Regions from separate parts of the Homo sapiens genome. Here region 2 is linked to region 1. The links come from fine-mapping of genetic effects on gene expression. Tissue or cell type: whole blood. Region 1 holds a variant in brackets; the other region holds the start of a gene. All regions are shown on one strand. Distances are from middle to middle.

The links. PIP is the estimated chance that this variant, and not a neighbour inherited with it, causes the effect.
Region 2: DOCK8 starts here. The variant in region 1 is fine-mapped to the expression of DOCK8 in whole blood (TOPMed, PIP above 0.99).

The regions. Positions count from the first base shown.
Region 1 is chr9:365,969-373,968 of GRCh38, forward strand. It overlaps DOCK8 (dedicator of cytokinesis 8), which reads left to right. Exons shown (of 48, transcript NM_203447.4): 15 at 2,050-2,167; 16 at 4,262-4,332; 17 at 5,460-5,598; 18 at 6,217-6,318. Among named protein-coding and RNA genes, the nearest start is that of DOCK8-AS2, 100 kb to the right of the region's middle. The variant T/A (reference allele first, on the strand shown) is at 3,285.
Region 2 is chr9:210,790-218,789 of GRCh38, forward strand. It overlaps DOCK8 (dedicator of cytokinesis 8), which reads left to right and starts at 4,076. Exons shown (of 48, transcript NM_203447.4): 1 at 4,076-4,240. The coding sequence starts at 4,188. DOCK8-AS1 (DOCK8 antisense RNA 1) reads right to left here and starts at 4,961. Exons shown (of 1, transcript NR_160804.1): 1 at 2,668-4,961. RefSeq lists silencers at 3,831-4,080, 4,091-4,140, 4,191-4,240, 4,411-4,550.

The DNA.
Region 1 (8,000 bases):
CTGCCTCTGTTTAGACAGAGCACGATTTGGGAAGTGCTGCTAAGTCAGCCAGTGGCTGAGTAGAAACAGCCCTGCAGTGGGCCTCTGCCTGCTCTGTGGCTCGTTTATCATGTGTCTCATCTTTAAAAGTTGGGGCTCAGTCTAGGTGCCTCCTGGCCTGAGCACCCCAGAATTCTATGCTGATCCCTTCATTGTGACATGGCCTGTCATCTACTCTTCTGGGAAGACCATCTGCACCTCACTGATACTTGAAGCTCATTGAGTATTGTCACATATCAGCCCAGAAAGTCACAGGGTACAGCAACTCATACTTGCTCCCAGCACCAGGCCAGCCCCATTCTGCCTCCAGGGAGTCACCCAAAATAGAGAGATGAGGGTAAAATAAGACCTAGGAATACTATTTATTTGCCTCCATGGCCTTTGAACTTGCACATCCAACGTAACGGCTCCTGTGTGTTCTTGATTGTTCCAATTATCATTTTTCCTCTCGAATACCTGAGAGCATTCATTATTTTGCAAGAGATTTGAGAATCCCTGTGCCCTAACTTTTCTTTCCTTGATGTGGGATGTTCTTCTGTGACTAGGTAAGTTTATCTCAATGTGTCCCCAAATAATTTCTCAGAATGTTAAATTCATAAAAGCTACCATGAAAGGATAAATAAATGAAAGGAGTTCTGAGGTCAAAACATTTGGGGAAAGAAGAGTCTTTCTCCTTCTGAGGCATTCTCAGTGCACAGTAACCTGTTTATCTCGCTTTGCCTTGCTCTTTCCCAAGCACATTTTTGCTCAACGCCCCCTACCTTCCCCATACACTTGTTAACACTTTGCAGAGCACTAGGGCTCTGTGGGACAGGCTGGGAAATGCAGGTTGACATGCCACTGTTAATACCTAGAAAATTAAGGCAAACTTGTCCCTGAGAGATGTCAGGATAGCACAGTATGGAAAGGCCATGCTTATCAGGGCTCTTATCTGAGAGAATACAGTGGTTATGAGCATGACTCTGGAACTAGACAGTCTGGGTTGAATTCCCCGCTCTGCCATTTAGTTATATGATATGGGGTGTATTACCTAACATCTCTGTATCTCATTTGTTCCTCACTTGTGACATGGGGATGATGACAATGATAATAGTACCAACCTATAGGATAGCTATGAGAATTAAACAAATTAGTAAATATGAAGTATTTGGAACATTGGCCTGACTCAGGATAAGTCCTGTTTAAATGTTAGTATCATTATTATTGTTTCTTCAAGCCAGGAATATACTTCATCAATTATGTGTACACTCATTCCTTCATTCAACAAACACTTACTTAATACTCCTGTGTCCTAGGCACTGTTCTAGTGCTGGAGATACATCAGTGAATCAAAAACATGAGAGAAAAATCCCTGTCCTTGTGGAACTTACACTGTAGTGGAATCTACTACTAATAATGCAAATAGAAAGAAAAATATATGCAAGTTACCCAGGCACTGGGTAGCCTAGTACCTGTCCTATAGTTGTCAAATGGATGGATATATTATTCTTATTGTTGTTGTCGTTTACAGTAATTGAGCTTGGAGGTTTGAGCTGCCATCTTAGATAAGAACAGAAAGCTAAGCCAATACGAGTGCCATGCCAGTAAGAAAAGGAAACTATTACATAAAGATTAGGAAGAAAAAAGAGAAGAATGACAAGTAGGCCATTATCTATGGCCATGAGTTTTATTTAAAATGAGCTGGACCTTTTTTGCCTTCTTTATCTGTGTATCAGATAGACAATTACCTCTAGGCAGATTTCCACATTCCAAGACATGAAGACTTTCTAAGCTGCAGCAGACACATCTTTACTTGTAGCAAAACAGAGAGCGATGGGGGTTATTTTCAGATGACTGTAGCTGAAGAGGAAGAATCAAGTAATTCACTCCCCCCAATAATAATTCACTTCTGAGAGGAAAAACTTCTTTGGAAAAAGCACCCCATGAATGGAAGTCTCAGCATTTGCTGAAGAACTTAGTTAAAATAAACTCTAGACCTTTTTCATTGATTCTTTATCTCTTCTTTTCCAGAAACCTTCTCTATGTCTACCCACAGAGGCTGAACTTTGTAAACAAACTAGCATCAGCCCGGAACATTACAATAAAGATCCAGTTTATGTGTGGAGAAGATGCTAGCAATGCGATGCCGGTAAGGAGGGAAACGAACATTTGCCTCAAATCAGGGTGGGCTGCTCACCCCTGTCACTTCACACAAGTCCGGGACTCATCAGTGTACAAAGTCCGTCTATTCCAGGCCAATACTGCTCAGCATGTGCAAGGGCTTCTGTGCCCAGGATATCAGTGGGGAAACAGGGTCAGTCTTACTTGACGATCTCTTTCTCGGCTTATTCTGTAGTGAGCTTGGAACATACAGATCATTTTAGAGGATTAAAAAAAGTCATAAAGTCTTTCCATACTGCCCATAGGACCACCCCACTCTAAAGGCATACAAAGTAAAGAGATGGCTCAACACGTGCGCCATGTTTGCTGAGTGTCTTCCATGCACAAACTGTACACACTGTGTTATACACACACAGTGTTACACACTTACTCAAGCCTCGGACCACAGTGCTGATGAATACAAAGTACCGCCTAGTAATTATAAACACACACCACCTCCACACCTTCTAGGAGTGGATCTTTGTTCTGAGGCAAAATATAAATCAAATTATTCATATATATATATATATATAAAATGCAGTGTGCTCCAAGGAACTCAAAATGCCAGAATTTATACTTTTTAAACCATCTCCTACTAAATGAGATGGTGGTTAGCTATTACTATTTCCCATAAGTCATAGAATTCAGTTAATATAACTTTCTTTCTTTTTTTCTTTTTTTTTTTTTTTTTTGAGACAGAGTTTCACTCTTTTTGCCCAGGCTGGAGTACAATGGCCGCAACCTCCACCTCCCAAGTTCAAGTGATTCTCCTGCCTCAGCCTTCCAAGTAGCTGGGATTACAGGCGCGTGCCACCACGCCCAGCTAATTTTGTATTTTTAGTAGAGATGGGGTTTCACCATGTTGGCCAGGGTGGTCTCAAACTCCTGACCTCAGCTGATCCACCCGCCTTGGCCTCCTAAAGTGCTGGGACTAAAGGCGTGAGCCACTGCACGCAGTTAATATACCTTTCTAAAAAGAAAAAGAAAAAAATCCTTTCTCTTAATGTCCCACCCAAAGAAAAAAAGAAAAAAAAAAACCTTTCTCCTAACGTCCCACCTGTCTTCCCAATGCAAGGTGTCTTAAGACAGCGGTGGGGTCCTCTTAG[T/A]CCTCTCTGCTCAGGCCCCTGGCATGCCACTGCCAGGAGTGCCAGATATGCTTGTGCAGATCCTGTGGCAACCAAGATGCCCAGCCAAGAGTGACTGTGGGCTAAAGTCCAGTCTGTTCTTCATTCACTGAGCCATGGGTTCTGGTGTTGGGATTACTGCATCTAGAGGAAAGAGCTTTTTTTCTCTGCACAAAGGTGAGTGCACTTGTTCATAATGCATCCTAAATGCTGCTTCAGGCCCAAGGAGGTATCTTTTTCTAAATGGCACAAATGTGGATAAGGCAGTGGAGATTCAAATCACCTAAGTGAGTAGGTCTGTATGTTTGAGAGAGAAGAACCTGGAACTGGGGATTTCTCACTCAAGACAAAAGTATGTAACTTTGGCCTGTTGGATAGACCTCTAGGCAGTGAGGCAGAGTGGAGAGAGTACTGGTTTTCTAATCTCACAAACATGTGGCCTTTGGTCACTAATATAGCCCCTTGGAACCTCATTTCACCCTTCATAGCCAGTTCCTTTGCACTGGTGTGCTTGGGCCAGTTGTAGTCCCAGCACTTTTTTTTTTCTTTTTGAGACAGGATCTCACTCTTGCCCAGGCTGGGGTGCAATGGTGCAATCTCGACTCACTGCAACCTCTGCTTCCTAGGCTCAAGCGATCCTCTTGCCTCCGCCCCCTGAGTAGCAGGGACTATACGCATGTGCCACCACGCCTGGCTAATTTTTGTATTTTTTTGTAGAGATGAGGTTTCGCCATGTTGCCCAGGCTGGTCTCCAACTCCTGGGCTCAAGCCATTCTCCCACGCCGACCTCCCAGAGTGCTGAGATTACAGGTGTGAGCCACTGCTCCTGGCCAACCCAGCACTCTTAATTGTACAAAATGCAGCTCTATGAGACCAGAACATCCTGTTGGCCTGATGATAGTCAATTTGATGTACCCAAATGTTACTGATAATTTGATCCTTTCTCTACTGGTGAACAGGTCATCTTTGGAAAATCCAGCGGGCCTGAATTTCTGCAGGAAGTGTACACAGCTGTTACATACCATAATAAGTAAGTCTATTTCAGCATTCTAAATATATGCCAAGATGGTTTCATCATCTCCTGGTTTTTCCAAGTCCCGTGGGTGGTTCCTCCTAACTATTTTTATAATTCAGGGACTGAGGGGCAAAGGAAATCCATGCCAGTTCCGTGACTCTGTGTTGAAGATGTATAACTTTGCCATTAACCAAGACTGAGAGAAGAACGTGTCTTCAAGAATCCAATATAGTTTTGACTTTTCCAGAAGCTTCTATTCTAGTATGATGCAAAGAGGTTGTATTACGTTAATTAAGGAAACACATTTCCTAACTTGCTTTGAGACCCTGGAGGGGACCAGAAGCACAGTCCGGCTCCCCTTGCCCTGTGTGTCCCTGTCCGCTCCACTTGACACCTGCCCCACTGTCTGCCTAGGCTGACCAAAGGAGAAATGGAACACTCATTATTCCACCGGCAAATGGAGTCATGGGATAATGCCCACCCTATTATTCATGTTCCACAGGGAAGGGAGAGACACCTGCACAGTGTTGGACGGAATTGGGTTTGATCCGGGCCTGATAACCTGGGCCTAATTAAGTCCTTCATTTAAGCACATTCTGGGATTGGGATGAGGATTAAGTGAGGTAATGTACATTACATACCTACATTACTTTACAATGTACGTAATGTACTTCGTAATTAATGAAGAACCTAGGGCTTCATAATGCAGTTAAATTGGTTCCTTTTTCCTCCTGCCTCATTCATTTGCTTCTACTCTTTGATGAGTGCAGCTAGGTGCTAGGCTTGGTTCCTTGGGTAGAAATGGAAAAAGGAGGTCACAGCAGGAGTCCAAACCTCATCCTTTCTTCAAATTAAGTTGTTGGAGTTTTCCATTGTGTGGGGGAGTTGTTTTTTGTTTTTTGTTTTTTGTTTTTTGTTTTTCCTGACAAAGCCTTTAGTTCATGAACAGTTTTATGTAAGGGAAGTGCATCTAATAACATAAGCTTGGTCTCAGGGACTTCCAGCTTCAGAGCAGAGTAATGTAAAATGAAAAGCAAAACACCAGGCAAATTCTGAGGAGCAAAGGGGCTGTGGCGTTTTACAATCAGAGAAGTCATCATTCTTGCTAAAAGTTATTTGTGTATAATGTGCTTTTGAAACAGGTCTCCTGACTTTTATGAAGAAGTGAAAATTAAGCTCCCCGCTAAGCTCACAGTAAATCACCACCTCCTGTTCACCTTCTACCATATCAGCTGTCAGCAGAAGCAAGGAGCCTCCGTGGAAACTCTCCTGGGATATTCAGTGAGTTGTTTCCAGCCTGCTGACTCACACTGCAGTTGTTGGTGCATCTGAGGTCCCTGCAGAGATAAACAACCAAATTCTATTCACTTGATTTTTTCCAGTCAGAAGTAGCAAAACATGCTAAGCCACATTATAGCAAGAGGCAGAAATGATTTGCCTTAGCAAATGTCAAATTTCAGGAATGGAAAGCTAGCGGGTGATAGATGTTGGAAGAATACTCATCTGTTTTTTAAAAAGCATTGCAGTGTTCACTATTTCCAAATTTAATATCCATGCTTCACGTATAGAACTAGCTTTGTCCCCCAAGAAGAAACCATTTTTTCTTTAAAAGATATAAAAGGTGAAATAAACATTGATGTTGTTCAGACACACACAAACATTGGCTACAGAGAAAAATGCTACTGCTTTAGCTCCAAAAGCAATAAATCATCAATATTACCATTTCAGGAGGTCTCGGAGATTTAAAATGCAAAGAACTGGACAGAAATTACTGCCAAAAAGAGTACTGGTCAATATCTACTCACTGTTTAGTTGCATTTGATTATTGCGAGCTAGATAAATTATCAGAATTATATGCTGTAATAAATACCACTTTATTATTTACATCATCTGTTTCAGTGGCTGCCAATTCTCTTAAATGAACGTCTTCAAACTGGATCCTACTGTCTCCCAGTTGCCTTGGAAAAATTGCCACCCAACTACTCCATGCATTCTGCTGAGGTAATTGGCAAGCTGGCCATCAGCTGTTTCTTGTCCAGCTGTAGTCTTGGACCACCTTCCCAGACTCACTTTCCATTCCCATGTGGCCATGGATGTTCATCATGTTCTCAGAGAGCACATTGTTCTGATAGGATGGGAGGAATAACTGACTGTGAAACCTCATTCTTTTAAATGCCACCAAATCAGAATGTTCAGTAGACGCAACCTACACCCAAGGCAGCATAACCTTGCATTATCTACCACAGAGGGATTCCCAGAATAATGTATTATAGAAGAGGAGGCAAACTAAGGCCATTCATAGTAAACAACTGTTCCCATCAAGGATCCTTATAAAAGATTCCCAGGCCAGATTCATCCGTTTCTTTCTTGGGTCAGTTGTCACAGCCCTCCGGTAGATACCAAGGTATTTATTCTCCTACCAATCCCAATGCCAATAGCCTTTCCCACTTCCTGTTTCTGGCACTTTCTCTTGCTCATCCACTCTGCTGCAGTGCACCCATTTAAAGAGAAGCCCAGGTGGATCAACTGAGGTCAGGATTTCAAGACCAGCCTGGCCAAGGTGGCAAAACCCCATCTCTACTAAAAATACAAAAATTAGCTGGGCCTGCTGTTGGGTGCCTGTAATCCCAGCACTTTGGGAGGCCGAGGCAGGCAGATCACTTGAGGTGAGAAGTTCAAGACCAGCCTGGCCAACATGGTGAAACTCCATCTCTACTAAAAATACAAAAAAATTAGCCGGGCGTGGTGGCGGGTGCCTGTAATCCCAGCTACTCGGGAGGCTGAGGCAGGAGAATCGCTTTAACCTGGGAAGTGGAGGTTGCAGTGAGCTGAGATCACACCACTGCACTGCAGCCTGGGTGACAGAGTGAGACTCCATCTCAAAATAAATAAATAAAAAATAAATAAAGGGAGCCCAGGGGACTGTCCACCCTGACTGCACCAGCTGTCACACTGCTAGCCCACTTCTCAGTTCCTTGCATAGGTTTACATCAATAAGTATTATTTTGAAGTAAATCTCGGACATCATATTTCATTTTAGTCTGCATCTTAAAAGATAAGGGATTTGTTTTTAACCATCACAATACCATTGTCATACTTTAAAATTTTAACTGTAATTTCTTAGTATCATCAAATATTCAGTCACTGATCAAATTTTTAATTATCCCACTAATGCTATATTTTTGACGCTTGCTTTTTAAAATTGGTATTCAGATAAGGTCCACACACTGATATTGATTGTTACATCTCTGGAGACGCTTTTAATCTACAGATCCTCCATCTCTTTTGCTTTCCTTGCAATTTTAAGTTGAAGAATTTCTCAGAAATTTGAATTTAATTTCAACCGTTCCAGTCAACTTTCTTCTCTGTTCTTTCGCCATCTACCGTCTCACTTCCGGCTGTTTTCCTCTTATTTTCTTTTTTCCTTAAAGAGAGAACCAACTTTTGCCCTGGACCACAGGCATGTGTCTGGTAAACCAAAACTTCTCTCATCAAAGCCATCTAAGGGGCAATCCGAGTATGTCCACAGACATTTCCCTGATTGGTCTTTATGATTTGGACATCAACACCTTTCAGTATCCCTCAAAACCACCTTCTTATCATCAAGTTGCACACTCTAATTTCTTAGAACCCCCTATTATCTTTTTAAGCTATAGGAAAGACCTGAGTGTTGGAGAGAGACA
Region 2 (8,000 bases), 160 kb before region 1:
TTCTAGAAGCATAAGAGATAATAAACAAATAAATAAAATATATAGTATGTCAGATGGTCATAACAGCTATGGAGAAAAACAAAGTTGGAAAAGGAGTTAGAAAGTGTCAGGACAAGGGAAGGGGGCACTGTCATGTTAACTAGATGTTCTTGGAAGGTGACATTTGAACTAAATCTGGGGAGGTCCTGCGTGGTTTTGGGGAAGAAGGAAGGGACATGAAAATGATCACACTTTTTTTTCCTCTCTAGTCCTGTCCTCAGGATCTTGCATTCCACTGCGCTGTGTTTATTGGTAATGACCCACACTTTTAATTAATTAAATGATGCTGTCAGACTGAAAGAGACACTCCATCCAATAGAGATGGAGCATGGTAGCTTGACTCAGACCCTGAGGGATGGGCAGAGACTGGATGTGGTGCGAGGCGAGGACAGCAGGAAGGATAACGTAAGCAGGAAGAGGGCCTGGGCAGACAGGAGCACCGCCTGCTTTAGGGACAAGCTGGAGATCTTCCCTGCTCCAACAGAAAGGTAAAGAATAAAGCTGGTTTTGTGAAGTGGGCATACGAGCTAGCTAGAAAAGGTCACGCTTGGTCATAGAGGCTACAGGAAGTCACCAAAGCTAAATGAGCAGAGAAGAAATATGGTGAAACAGGTATTTTAGTAAACTTCATCTAGTGATAGAAACAGATGAGATAGGAGAAAGAAGAGGCTACAGGCAGTGAAGCCATTTAAAATCTTATTTTTGTTATCTAGGTATTAATTTATAAGGGCTGGACCGGAATGAAAGCCACTGTGAGAACAGTGATATTTACAAAGAAGTGATATTTATAAGAAATAAATGGCAGACCTTGGTAGGTGATTAGATCTGAAGGACACAGGAGGAAAAAAAGTTAGAGCTGACGTATTTCTAAAGTTCAGAGAGAGGCAAGCAGATGGAGTCATTCCAAGATACAGGCCTCTGTGATCCAAAGACCGTGTGACTTACTCGGGATTACACAATTAGCAAAAAGCTGAAGCCAGAACCCAGATTTCCTGCTTTTCCCTCCACTGGATGACTCCAAAGTTTTAAACCTGGAAAATGAGGAAGTAGTGTGCCACCACCGACCCCCCAAAAAATGTGTGATTATGGAGAGATAGCTAGCTTCCAGTTAAGTAGGGTAGATGGAGAATTTTAGTTTTATACTGGAGTTTGAAGATGTTAGAGTACAGAAATCTGGGAAATAGGCAAAACTTTAGGATAGGAAATGGCTCTGCCCTTACTAGTTTGTAATCTTGGTCAAGTCACTTAACTTCTCTAAGCCTCAGTTTCTCCAGTTGCAAAGAGGTATGTGTGGGGGGGTTAATGTTATTATTTAATGGTTGCTATGAATTAATTTTTATAAAGGACTTGGAGCAGTACCCGGTACAAGATAAGTGTTATTTAGTTGTTTGTTCAATAAAATAGGTAAGATGCAATGTAGAGAAAGAGGTCGGCTTTCTGGGGAGGTAAGAAGAAGATGTGGGGAAAACTAGAGCATTTAGGATAATTGATGTATGGTCTGAGATAGAAGTCAAGGGAAGAGTTGTATAAAGGTGAAAAACAAAATTGAATGACACAAAGATACGGAGAAAGAGGAAGGCCAAGAGAGACCATCAGATGCGGAAAGAAGGAGGCCTCCCAGAGTTCTCTCTGGACAGAGGGCTGATGGAAAACGAAAGAGGCAGTGAGAATAAGGAAGAAAGGCACTTGGATGGCTATTTGCCAGCAATATGTGAATGTATCTAACAGCAGATCAAACTTGAAAACAGGCATTTGACTAAATTAATGGATAACACATTCATGGTGAATTGTTAAAAGAGTGTTAAGGAAATCTGGAGACAATTCTAACCATCAAGAAATTGACAGCACAGAGGATAATAATGCTGGCCTAACCTTCATGGTTAGGTACCAAATACTAAATCTATTGCAGTATGATCTGAGGCAAGATGGAAGGTTTTATGATTCCCACATTCACCCAAAAAGTTTCCTTGATTGCAAATGCTGAAAATCTGAGATGCTTTCATTACATTTTATTTATGTTTGTGTGAAACCAGTATATTTTTGTTCTATATGAAAATGTATGTCATAAACATTCAGAAATTCAGAGGAGTTCATCCGAAAGGCTGACATGGTACACCGTGGACCGAAGCCTCTGGGGCAAAATGTTTTCTATGTATCATTCGTTGAGTCTCAGTTTGAAGAAGTACTTACACATTTGTTCTCTTTGTATTTTGCTATCCAAATGTTTGCTCATAAATTCCAATGTAGTAAATAAGGACAGTTTTGAAAGTCAGAAACTCTAAATTTCAAAAAAGCTTTATTTTTCTTTGGGTTTGTTTTCGTATGTAGTCTATTGTAGTCTATGCAGTGAACTTTGTCTTATATGCTTAAAAGGGCACTGATATTTGGTGGGCATTGGGGGGCGGGGAGTTACCTAACCAGTACTGAAAAGTTACTAAACTACCTGACACAGCTGAAACCAGGAAGGAAGGCTGTATCAGGAAGAGACTGAATATAGTCCTTAGGTGGATTTTAGTATTAGGTGACAAATTAGGTTGTATTGGACTGGCACTGTCCAATAGGAATATAATGAGGCTCACAAATGTGAGCCACATGTGTAATTTTACATTTTTAAAAATGCAAACCACATTTTTAAAAGGGGAAAACAAACAGGTGAAATTAACTTTAATAATATATTTTTTATATCCAAAGTATCATTTAACATGCAATCAACATGAAAATCATTAACAAGACATTTTACACGATGTTTTCTGCGCTGTCTTTAAATTCCAGTGTACATTTTACACATCCAGCAGTGGGCAATTCAGACTAACCATAATGCCGAGTGGTCAATAGCCACATGTGGCTAGTGGCTATCATATTAAATAGTGCAGGTTTGAACCAAAAATACTTCGCTTTGGTTGTTTTTTTTTTTTTCTTTTAGACGGAGACTTGCTCTGTCGCCAGGCTGGAGTGCAGTGGCAGATCTCGGTTCACTGCAAGCTCCGCCTCCCGGGTTCAAGTGATTCCCCTGCCTCAGCCTCCCAAGTAGCTGGGACTAAGGCGTGCGCCACCACGCCCGGCTAATTTTTTGTATTTTAGTAGAGACGGGGTTTCACCACGTTGGCCAGGATGGTCTCGATCTCCTGACCTCGTGATGCGCCCGCCTCGGCCTCCCAAAGTGCTGGGATCACAGGCGTGAGCCACCGCGCCCGGCCTGCTTTGGTATTTTTTAAGAGCAAGTTGGTAAATGGAGGCATTATATGGAGAGTGCTCGAGTATATATAGCACAGGTTAGAGCAGCACGCCGGCACCTTGAAGCGAACACGGGCTCCTCCACTCCCGTCAACACTGGGACTTTTCTGTTTTTATCTTGAGTTTGAGGCCGGGCTTCTTAGCAGACCTCAGTCTGAAACTGAAATAAACCTGGACGCAGCGTACCCTTGAATCGCAAGAACGCCGCCTTCAGTGTTTCTCCGGAGAAAAGCATTCACGCCAGGTTGTGACGAAAACATTTTTTGAGAACTCATAATGTTTATTCCTTGGATGAATCCATTATATTTATTTAGTGTCTCAGGAAGGATGATGGGCATATTGCTTGCAAAAGTTGATTTGAATCCTGATAGATTCCACTAACTTTTTTGTCTTTTTTTTTGGCTGCCTTCTTCGAGAATGGTGTCAACCCTTAATAACACCTAGCCTTACGAATCCCTGGGGTGATTCCCGACCTCGCCAGCTTTGTGGGGCTCCCCCGACTTGCCTACATTCCCTGGCAGCCTCGCAGCTTCGGGCAGATGGAGCTTCCGGCCTGCGCGCAGTGGTCGCCTGTCGTCCGCCCGCGCTCCCTTCGGCCGGAGGTCGGCGGCCCCGGGCAGAGCGCGCCGTCTGCCCCAGTATCGGGAGGCCAGTTCCGCGCTGGGCCCACGCCCTCCTCGCCCGCCGCTGCCTGCGCGCCAGGCCGGGTGGCGGAGCCGGCCGTCGCTGCTCCGAGCTCGGACCCTCCCCCGGGGTGATTTCGGCTTAGAAGGTGGAAATGCGGAAGTTTCCAGCGCCGACCGACAGACGAGGTTTGCGCTTGGCTGGGCATGTTCCGCGGCTACTCTGCGGCGCGCCAGGCCCCCGCTTTCCGCACCCCGCGACCCTAGAAGCCACCGAACCGCCGGCGGGCCATGGCCACTCTGCCGAGCGCAGAGCGCCGCGCGTTCGCGCTCAAGATCAACAGGTAAGACGCCCCCCGCGGCGCGCAGGTTGCGGCCGGACAGCCCAGCGCTGGTGTGAAGCGGAGCTTCGCTGCAGGGGCCGAGGCCGGACGAGTCCATTCGCGTCCGCGGCGGGGCGCGCCTGAGACCTGGGGCGCCCGGTTCCCGAGGCTGCGGCGGTGGAGCCGCTGGACGCGCGGCGGCTCCTGCGCTGGGCCCGGCGAGGTCCTCCCCAAGAATCTCGGTGCTCCTGGATGTCCTCAGCCGCCGGGGATCCCTTCCCCGAACAACCTCGCCCGCTCCGCCCTCCAGGTTCTTACAGGTGGCCGGGTCCCAGAAGGGTGATAGGCGCCTGGGTAACCGTGTTGGGCGCGCCACGGAGTGTCTCATAAACGGCTCCTTCCTTTGAGGCAAGTCTGAGCGCGGGGGGAAGAAGTGAAGTGGCTGAAATTAGAGTTGCGTTTGAGGCAGGCTGCAAGCCTTCTGTCGTCCTGAGCAAGGCTCCGTCCTCGCCTGCTTCATTATTCCAGAAAGAGCTTGGCTCCTGGTGGCATCGCTATTTTTATACCCTGGTCCAAAGGAGCCATGAAGTGGAAAAAGTGATTTTTTAAAAAATCTACACTTAAATAAACCAAAAGAAATGGCCTGTGGCTGACATTTTGAGATTTACAGAACTCCAGCAAAAAGCTAAGGACTGGGGGATCCCAACTCACCATCCAATTCCTAATCAAAGTTGCACAAACTAAATATGTAAGCACATTTACTGCTCAAAGTTCTCAGTAAAGGTGCTTTAACTGCAGTTTTTCCTCCACTAAAAACTGCTGACAAGTAATTGGGACATTTTTGTCTTGCCCTGAGAAAGCTAGACTGTCTAGTTAAAAGATAATAGGAAACTCATTCTAAAGTGTCAACTTATTCTATTGCCCACAGGGCTGTCCGATTTGTTAATCTTCACTTAGCTGAGCCTGTGAAAGGTGGATTCCACCGTAGGTTCATCTTTGTGCTGTTAGTGTGTGAAGAGGTTTGAACAAGGAATTAAAAGCCTAGAAAAACAAGGCGATAAGGTCTTCTAGAGGGCATATCGAGCTTTATTGACGATTTTATTTCCACTTGATACGTGACTGCCAGCAAACTGTTTCTCTTACCTTACTATTTCGTCATCTGTAAAATGAGTTTAATTATTTATGTATATTGCATATTAATGTTGGAGGCCAAAAGGTACTAGTCAAAAGGCATAAAGAGGCTGGGTGCCATGGCTCACACCTCTAATCCCAGCAATTTGGGAGGCCCAGATGGGAGGATTACTTGAGCCCAGAGTTTGAGACCAGCCTGGGCAACATAGTGGGACCCCTGTGGCTACAAAAAAATAATTTTAAAACATTAGCCAGGTGTGGTTGCATGCACCTGTAGCCCCAGCTATTCAAGAGGCTGAGACAAGAGCATCGCTTGAGCCCAGGAGGATCACAGCTGTGATCATGCCACTGCATTCCAGCCTGGGTGAGAGAGTGAAACCTTGTCTCAAAAAACAGACAAAAAAAAAAAAAAAAAAGCAAAAACAAGGCATGAAGTATATCAGGGATCTCCCTATGGGAATTTTTTTCTACATTAAGGTTCATAGCTGTTGCATGCCAGGAGGGGTAATTCATTCAAGGAGTATAGGGAATCAAACTGAAGTTACTGATGGGTGTATTATTTGCTATAGCTCCTGATCCTCTGTCTTTGTGAATTTTAGATCAGGAAGTGTGACTGGGGCAGAAAGATGTTAGAAACTATGGGGTTGGGCAGGGTTGATCTGGGGTGAGTGGCCGAGACCCGGACTAATCCTACAGGCAGTCTTGCAAGCAACTGCGGGGTCGGTGTCACCTGGGGGTTAAGAATAAAGGCCCTGGTTAGTGTCTGATCTGCTTGCAAATTGGCTCTCTGCTACAAAGTCACTGTGCAACATTGGACATGTTACTTAACTTCTCTAAGCTTTGGTTTCTTTATGTGCCAAGTAGAGTTGATCATAGTACCTACTTCTTATGACTGTGGGGAGGATTAAATGAATAATAGGTACAAAGTCCGAATTGCCAAGTGCTGGATGTGTAACATACACATTGGAATTTAGAGACAGTACAGAAAAAATAATGCAAAATGTCTTGTTAATGATTTTCATGTTGATTGCATGTTGCTTGTAGTGTCTGGCTCAGAATAAATGGTGAATAATTCTTAGTTGCCATCATTAACATTACAATCAGCTTCACTGCTGTCATTATCTCCATCATCACCATCTTTGAGAGCCTAAGATAGAAAGGTAGGAAGGAAAGCTGAAGTTGGAGAGCTTCAGGCAGAGATCAGTTTGGGTTAGGTATGGAGATGCCAGTGGCTGGCTGGGAGCTTTCTTGGGGCCAGTGTTTCTCCGCCTGTGCCTTCCATCTGGTGCTGAGAACCCAAAACACATTCAATGGAAGAAAATATGTGATGAAATCTGATCAAGAAGAGCCCCCTCAAGTTTAATAAAGTATAAAAGGTTCTATAATCCTCAGGCAAGAAAATGGATTGGAAATTCGTATTCTTAGAGTTCTGTTTTCCTTTTTGAAGCACTCTGTGTGTTGTGTGGGAGAGTTATGCTAAGGAGCTTGGCAGAAATTATTATTCAAAGGAGCAGATTAATAAGGACATACCTAGTATTCATATATCATTTAATTTCACCATTTATTGTTTACTTATTGTGTCCCAGACACTATATTATACAGTTAATGGATTTTATGATTAAATTCTCACAAAAAGCCTATCAAACTCATGAAGTCTTGTACAGAAGAGGAAAAGGAATCTTGGAGATACAGCTGCACAAGGCCATGTAATTTTTTCAAGACCATACAACCAGCAATGGCAGAGCTGGGATTGCAAACTGCTCCAAAGACTGTGCTCTTAATTGGGCCGATTGTTATTTTGATGCATATGTATCCCAAGAATTTCCTTTAAAGCAAGAGGGGAATTAATTTTTAAAAAATCATCATTTTGGTAGCAGCATTGGCAAAGTGTTCTGTTTCTGATTAGTGTTTAATATATAAACATTAACAATGTGATGTTTTGCAATGTTGAAGGTGGAAAAGAAATGTTTTCCCTTACGTGCCTACCTATTATTTTTTTTAAATAGGTCAAATTCCAAAAGTAAGACTGTGTTGAAATATGGCCATTAGTACATTCAGCATGTGCTCATGTTTTTCACCTTACTACTCAGAATAGTGTAAACTATCTCTTAAAAATATTTGTGGGATAAAACCAGTGTGCTTCCTGTTAATGAAGTATTCAAATCTGATATATTAAAAATATTATTTGTAAAGCGTTCAGTTCTGACCACACCAGTCTCCAGAAGGAGTGAGCAGACTATCTCACAGTCTGAGAAGAAAGGTGAAATTAATTTTCTTGTAAGTGCTATATACTTGTCTTCATTTCCATTTTTTTGTTGCTGACTTGCGTGCCAAGGAAAGACTAGATCTAAGTTAGGCAGTTCGTAATAACATTTGCGTTTGGGATTTCAGGTGCTGCTGCATTAAATGTCATAACATGGTACTTGTGGGAACATCTAGTCTTGTTAATTGCCTTTTTTCTTACTGGAATTTAGTGCCTTTGTAGATTATAAAAATTATTACTAGTACTCTGAAAATTTATTAAACAAAATCTTAGTGTCTTTCAAATACAGAATAGATGTAAAATTTGATCAAATATTAAAGTAAAATAAGAACCTTGGATAAAGAGGACGAAAGTGTAGAATGCAGAAAAAAACATTAACCCTCTTGT